Linked DNA regions of Homo sapiens. Changing the gene in region 1 together with any one later gene gives a genetic interaction. Each region holds a gene or a part of one and is shown on either strand. Other genes may lie near its edges. The genes, in order: PGK1 and CARS2.

Evidence for each region.
Region 2: changes in PGK1 (region 1) and CARS2 together harm fitness more than expected from each alone (negative genetic interaction), as found in Homo sapiens cells (one large-scale study listed by BioGRID).

The regions. Positions count from the first base shown.
Region 1 is NC_000023.11:78,124,748-78,128,563, forward strand, and holds part of PGK1 (phosphoglycerate kinase 1), read left to right. Parts: intron 1-126; coding exon 127-304; intron 305-579; coding exon 580-678; intron 679-1,042; coding exon 1,043-1,083; 3' UTR 1,084-3,816. UniProt on the Homo sapiens protein: Catalyzes one of the two ATP producing reactions in the glycolytic pathway via the reversible conversion of 1,3-diphosphoglycerate to 3-phosphoglycerate.
Region 2 is NC_000013.11:110,685,346-110,689,161, reverse strand, and holds part of CARS2 (probable cysteine--tRNA ligase, mitochondrial), read left to right. Parts: intron 1-1,143; coding exon 1,144-1,215; intron 1,216-1,335; coding exon 1,336-1,441; intron 1,442-3,563; exon of another isoform or gene 3,564-3,776; intron 3,777-3,816. UniProt on the Homo sapiens protein: Mitochondrial cysteine-specific aminoacyl-tRNA synthetase that catalyzes the ATP-dependent ligation of cysteine to tRNA(Cys). In addition to its role as an aminoacyl-tRNA synthetase, has also cysteine persulfide synthase activity.

The DNA.
Region 1 (3,816 bases):
ACTGAAGGGTACTATTTGTTTCTAGAAGAAACTTTGGTGTGCAGCCCTGAGTTCTGGTCTTGGTGGAGGTGGTGTTTAAGTAGCTTTTCTTGATAGCTCATCTTCTCTTTCACCTCTACCCCTCAGGGCTTGGACTGTGGTCCTGAAAGCAGCAAGAAGTATGCTGAGGCTGTCACTCGGGCTAAGCAGATTGTGTGGAATGGTCCTGTGGGGGTATTTGAATGGGAAGCTTTTGCCCGGGGAACCAAAGCTCTCATGGATGAGGTGGTGAAAGCCACTTCTAGGGGCTGCATCACCATCATAGGTAAGCGGTCCTATACAAAGCTAATACCCATATAAGCTGGCAGAATTCTGATCAGAGGAAGGTGGAATGGAGAACTTCTTCTATGTCTCTTTATTCTGGGTAAATGTTAAGAGGTAAACAGGTAGGTAATTTACAGAGGAGCCTCTTGGTAAGATAGAGTTGGGGGTTTATCAGCTACCTTTTGGGTTGGGGAGCACACTGCCTTACAGTTTTGGTGCCAATCCCTTTTTTTTCTTTTCTCTCTTTTCCCTTTTTACCTGGCTTTCATTCAACAGGTGGTGGAGACACTGCCACTTGCTGTGCCAAATGGAACACGGAGGATAAAGTCAGCCATGTGAGCACTGGGGGTGGTGCCAGTTTGGAGCTCCTGGAAGGTGAGGGTCTTCTGTTTTTTGGCTTGTTTGGGATAAGGGTGGACTGTGCAGTGAGAGGTGGGTAGAATGGAGTGGAGAAAGTTAGAAGGTAGTGTTGTCATTAGCAGTCATTACTACCTGGGCAGTACAGAGGAACTTCAGATAAAGCTCCTGGCATCCACTGAGGCGGGGAGGGACAGATAGAAACTTGGTCTGAGAGTTATGGTCTAGTAGACCTGGAATCCACAATGTAAAAGTTGGCCAGCTCCTGGCCATATATCCTAAAAAAGAGCTGGCATGTTATTGGGAAGATAAAGTGGGGGAAATCTGGCTTACTGGGCCCTATAGTAATGCTGTCTATGTATGTGTGCTCTCTCAAAAACAGGTAAAGTCCTTCCTGGGGTGGATGCTCTCAGCAATATTTAGTACTTTCCTGCCTTTTAGTTCCTGTGCACAGCCCCTAAGTCAACTTAGCATTTTCTGCATCTCCACTTGGCATTAGCTAAAACCTTCCATGTCAAGATTCAGCTAGTGGCCAAGAGATGCAGTGCCAGGAACCCTTAAACAGTTGCACAGCATCTCAGCTCATCTTCACTGCACCCTGGATTTGCATACATTCTTCAAGATCCCATTTGAATTTTTTAGTGACTAAACCATTGTGCATTCTAGAGTGCATATATTTATATTTTGCCTGTTAAAAAGAAAGTGAGCAGTGTTAGCTTAGTTCTCTTTTGATGTAGGTTATTATGATTAGCTTTGTCACTGTTTCACTACTCAGCATGGAAACAAGATGAAATTCCATTTGTAGGTAGTGAGACAAAATTGATGATCCATTAAGTAAACAATAAAAGTGTCCATTGAAACCGTGATTTTTTTTTTTTTCCTGTCATACTTTGTTAGGAAGGGTGAGAATAGAATCTTGAGGAACGGATCAGATGTCTATATTGCTGAATGCAAGAAGTGGGGCAGCAGCAGTGGAGAGATGGGACAATTAGATAAATGTCCATTCTTTATCAAGGGCCTACTTTATGGCAGACATTGTGCTAGTGCTTTTATTCTAACTTTTATTTTTATCAGTTACACATGATCATAATTTAAAAAGTCAAGGCTTATAACAAAAAAGCCCCAGCCCATTCCTCCCATTCAAGATTCCCACTCCCCAGAGGTGACCACTTTCAACTCTTGAGTTTTTCAGGTATATACCTCCATGTTTCTAAGTAATATGCTTATATTGTTCACTTCTTTTTTTTTTATTTTTTAAAGAAATCTATTTCATACCATGGAGGAAGGCTCTGTTCCACATATATTTCCACTTCTTCATTCTCTCGGTATAGTTTTGTCACAATTATAGATTAGATCAAAAGTCTACATAACTAATACAGCTGAGCTATGTAGTATGCTATGATTAAATTTACTTATGTAACTTTTATTGTCTTTGGCATTAACAGTGTTTCAAAAAATTTTCTGTGTATACCCATCAGTGATTCATTCCCAAATCTTCTAGAAGCATAAGTGTCTCAATATATTAAAACATATTGAATAATCCTTGTTAGAGTTATCCCTGCAGGAGTCCTTAGTGCTCCTTTATCCAATTTGTACTTGATGCCCTCTAGGCAGGGTGTACAGCTAGCTGTTGCTCTGGTATTTCCTATAACCTTCTTGGGGATTTCTTTTACCTCCTGTGTTAGACTCCTGTTTTCTGGATTCCCCCTTTTCCCTCTTTCTTGGTCTACTTTTTGTAGAACACAAGACTCTACTAGCTTCCTGAGAAAGGGTGCCTGGGAGGCAAAATCTCTAAGACTTTGTAAGTCTGAAAATGTCTTTATTCGACCCTTATACTTGATTCCTAGTTTGGCTATATATAGAATTTTAGCCTGAGTATCACTTTTTGAGACTCGAAGCCACTGTTTCATTGTCACTATTGAGAATCTAAATGGCCATTCGGATTCTTTCATCATCTTTATAATTTTACCTTCCTATTTCTTTCCTGTCCTTTTAATGGAGTTTTGGGAGAGAGCAGAGGTAAACATGATTTGAAAAAGCCATGTCTGACCAGAAATTCTGTGCTGGAAAGATATGTATTTCACCTTTAGGGACAAAGAAATAAACTTTTGGACAGGACCACAGAGCTAGTAAGTAACAGCAGGGATTCAAGTCCAGGTTTGTCTGGTTCCAGTGGCTGATGCTTTTCCAATGTGCCTCCGTCCCTGACATGATGCTTCTAGGCTATAGATGCTTCTAGACTCTATCCCTGACATGATGCTTCTAGACTATTTTGTTTAACCCTGGATAGAATAGCAAAAGAAAATTTTGGTGGTTGCTCTAAACAAAACAGAAATTTGAAAGCTCAAGTTTTTTCTTCATTTGTATTTTAGTTAATACTGTACCCATATTTGTAGTTAATTTTAAATTGTACCATGTTTCTGCATACCTCTATGGGTACTCAGGAATTCTAGTCCAATTTTTGTGACTTTTTCCTACTGATTACCTTTCCTCCAACGTTTTAAAAATTATTTCAAATGGAACTGAAAGAAGCATAAACTCCCATAAACCCAGCACCTAGACTCTACAATTGCCAACATTATCTATCCAACAATCTCTGACTGTACCTTTTAAGTACTTTCTACTGGACTGTTTCCAGGATCACCCCTCATTTATTTGGGTTGTTAACCTAAAGAATGAATGGGGGAATCTCCAGTCATAAACAACTTGTCAATTAGGCAAATATTTGAGTTCCTTCTATGTGCTTAAAGACGTGATAGAGGGAATATAAGAGCATTTATGTTCTGAAGGAATTTTTAACCTAACCAAAGAAGATAGTAGATAACTTGTGTGCATATAAGCTAGAACAGTATAAGGGGCCGGGCATGGTGGCTTACGCCTGTAATCCCAGGACTTTGGGAGGCCAAGGCGGGCAGATCACCTGTCAGGAGTTTGGGACCAGCCTGGCCAACATGGTGAAACCCCGTTTCTACCAAAAATACAAAAATTAGCCGGGCGTGGTGGCGTGTGCCACTGTAGTCCCAGCTATTCAGAAGGCTGAGGCAGGAGAATCACTTGAACCCGGGAGGTGGAGGTTGCAGTGAGCTGAGATCACGCTACTGCATTCCTGCTTGGGCGACAGAGTGAGACTCTGCCTCAAAACAAAAACCCCACAAA
Region 2 (3,816 bases), on another chromosome or scaffold:
TATGAAATAACATGAGCGAACCTAGTCTTGTGTCTCAGCCTCCTTGGATAATGTGGCAGGGGCTGCAGATGCGTGCCCCCAAGGCCCCCACATTTGGAATTGATTGGACTGTTTTGATGGTCTATCTCCAGAAACCCAGCCATGGGACCCGAGGGAATGAGTACTCCATTAAATCCCAGTTGTAGTGTGTTAAATTACTTTCAAAATATTTCTTTAGAAGTTCCTTTTTGATCTTTCTTTTTTGTTTGTTTTGGAAGAGAGTCTTGCTCTGTCGCCCAGGCTGGAGTGCAGTGGCACCTTCTTGGCTGACTGCAACCTCCGCCTCCTGAGTTCAAGTGATTCTCCTGCCTCAGCCACCTGAGTCTCTGGGATTACAGGTGTGCACCACCATGCCTGGCTAACTTTTGTATTTTAAGTAGAGACGGGGTTTCACCGTGTTGGCCAGGCTGGTCTCAAACTCCCGGCCTCATGTCATCCACCTGCCTTAGTCTCCCAAAGTGCTGGGATTTATAGCTATGACCCACAACACCCAGCCTCCTCTTTAGTATATTTTTGACTATTTTTTTTTTCTCCTGAGGATTAAGGGATAAGATAGGAACCTAGTTTCTTATCATACAGACTGGACTAGGGTGATTTTGCCCTTGTCTTAGAAAAGTGGAGGATCCTTGGTATGTTTTGTTTTCTATTTTACTTTATTTTTATTTTTGTTTCGGAGATGGTGTCTCGTCCTGTTGCCAAGGATGGGATTGCAGTGGCACGATCATGGCTGTTCGCAGCTTCAACCTCATGGTCTCAAACGATCCACTCATCTTGGCCTCCCAAAGTGTTGGGATTACAGGCGTGAGCCGCTGCACCCAGCTGGTTTGTTTTTTACTATATAATGGAAATTGTGACATTATTTCTTCTCTAACCAGAAGACAAGGTCAATAAGCCTTTTTTTCTAGCTAAGCTACTAGTAAAAGTTCAGTACCTAAAATGAGTGCCCCCGCTTTGGTGAGTGGGTGGGGGCAAACTGAGGCCGAGGCACCGGAGGTGGCCGGGGTATGTTTGCTGTCGTGTTGTGCACGTGGGCTTTCTTGTGGCTGGGTGGTTCTGTTGCGAATGCCCCAGACTCATTAACGTGCACATCTAATCCTTCTGCAGATGAATATTTCCCCCGCTTCCCTCGCCAGTCTTTATGAGGAAGACTTCAAGCAGGACATGGCAGCCCTGAAGGTAAAGTGTGGGGCTGGTTGTTCCTGCCATGAGGGTGACAGGCGTGAGCAATGACAGCTGGTGCTGGCTGACCTGTGCTTCTCACGAGGGAAACACGGTCACGTCTCCACTTCCTTGCAGGTTCTCCCACCCACGGTGTACCTGAGGGTAACCGAAAATATTCCTCAGATAATTTCTTTCATTGAAGGAATCATTGCTCGTGGGAACGCTTATTCAACGGCAAAAGGTAGGGTTTATGTTCTTTTTTTTTTTTTCTTTTTTTTTTTTTGAGACAGAGTTTTACTCTGTCACCCAGGCTGGAGTGCAGTGGTGCTATCTCAGCTCACTGCAACCTCTGCCTCCCTGGTTCAAGCGATTCTCCCGTCTCAGCCTCCTGAATAGCTGGGACTACAAGGTGCGTGCCACCATGCCCGGCTACATTTTTTTTGTTTTGGTATTTTTAGTAGAGATAAGGTTTCACCATGTTGGCCAAGCTGGTCTCAAACTCCTGACCTTGTGATCCACCTGCCTCAGCCTCCCAAAGTGCTGGGATTACAGGCGTGAGCCACTGTGCCCAGCCGGTTTATGTTCTTAAAACTAAAACATTACTGGGATTTGGAGAAACTGGATGTATTTATCAGCTGTAGGAACATACTAAAATTTACTTCTGTCTTGCTAGGATTCCAACAGCAAAGCTGTTGTGGGGTTTTCTACAATATTGTGTCTCTTTGCGAAATGGTTGAATTAGTTCTAAATATCTTTTCCAGGGAGAGGGGAACGTCTGGACAGCTAGTCTTGGTAACAGTCGTGGAATCTAGGTGGTAGGTGTACAGGTGTTCATTGTGGTGTTATTTCATCTTTGTTTAGGTATTTTCCTAACAAAAAGTTGGGGACAAACACAGTACCTCCAGAGACCTGCTCTCTTCTTATTAAAAGTCAGCCCAGGTCACCCCCGTCTGTTTGGCTATCGTTTTTTCACAGGCCATTACGAGTGAGTTGCGGGAGTCAGAGGTTGCAGTGAGCCGAGATCACACCATTGCACTCCAGCCTGGTGACAGAGCAAGACTCCGTCCACCCACCCTCCCCTGCACAAAAAACAAAAAGTTGCAGGGCCAGGCATGGTGGCTGATGCCTGTAATCCCAGTACTTTGGGAGGTGGAAGCGGGTGGATCACTTGAGGCCAAGAATTTGAGACCAGCCTGGGTAACATGTTAAAACCTTCTTTCTACTAAGATGACAAAAAATCAGCCAGGCCTGGTATCGCGCGCCTGTGGTCCCAGCTATTCTGGAGGCTGAGGCATGAGAATTGCTTGCACCCAGGAGGCATAGTTTGCAGTGAGCCGAGATCACACCATTGTACTCCAGCCTGGGTGACATTGCCAGACTGTCTCAAAAAATAAAAATAAAAAAGTGAGTTGCAGGGCTGGGCGTGGTGGCTGATACCTATAATCCCAGCACTTTGGGAGGCAGAGGCAGGTGGATCACTTGAGTCCAGGAGTTCAGGACCAGCCTGGGCAACATGGAGAGACCCCTTCTCTACAAAAATAAAATATAAAAATTAGCTAGGCATGGTGGCGTGCTCCTGTAGTCTCAGCTACTCAGGAGGCCGAGGTGAGAGGATAGATTGAGCCCAGGAAATTCGAGGCTGCAGTGAACCATGATTGTCCCACTGCACACCAGCCTGGGAGACAGAGCGAGACCTTGTCTCAAAAAAAAAAAAAAAAAGCGTGAGTTGCAGATGTTCTGTCGCATCAGCCATGACACTTCAACATGCATCTCTGCATAAAAGGAGTCCAGATGTCATGGTCAGACCTCAGACAATGAAGAATTTCTGGCTAGCTTCGCGTGTCCTCTCTGTATTAAATATACTCACTTGTCCCCAGGGCATGTGCTGCGTGTGCATTTGTTGGTTTAGTCTCCTCACTTTTTCCCCTCCTCTTTCTTTTTTTCTTTTTTTCTCTTTTTTTTTTTTTTTCATTTTTTCTGGGTAAGCACATGTAGATTCAAGACTCTGACAGGTCAGTTTTCCTGTGGAGCAGTCTGTGTTTAGATTTGCATGTTGCTTACTGCAGGTGGTTTCATTGGTTTGCGGATGCTAATCTTTGTCTGGTGGACCCCAGGCAAGGCTGGCGTCTTGCTGTTTTGCTGCTTTGGTGATGAAGCATCGCCATAAATCCGAACTAAATCCCACCCATCCTGGCTGCAAACCCTGACCACAGCCTCATCTCTCCATGAAGTTCTCCTTCACCCAGCACAGTTGAAAGTGAACTTACTTTCTCAGCCTTGATATCTCTGCTGTACCATTTGGCAGCCAGTTCTGCACTGCCATAGTTTGCTGTTTAATGTATTCATATTTTGTCCCCATCTAGATCATAAATTCTCAGACCATAAAAACCTTTTGCTTTACTGAATGACGCCTTAAAGTATCCAGCCGACGGCTGAAGATACGTAGGTATTGAATGTTTGTTGCAATGAGTCAGAAAGCATGAAGCACTGCCCTGGACGTTCCTGTCCTTCCTGGGTCCTACTTGGAGCGTAAGATGAGCACGTGAGGCCCTGAGGATCTGCTCAGTAGGCTCTGTGTATGGAAGTAGCTTTTTACTTGTTCTAATGTGGTATATT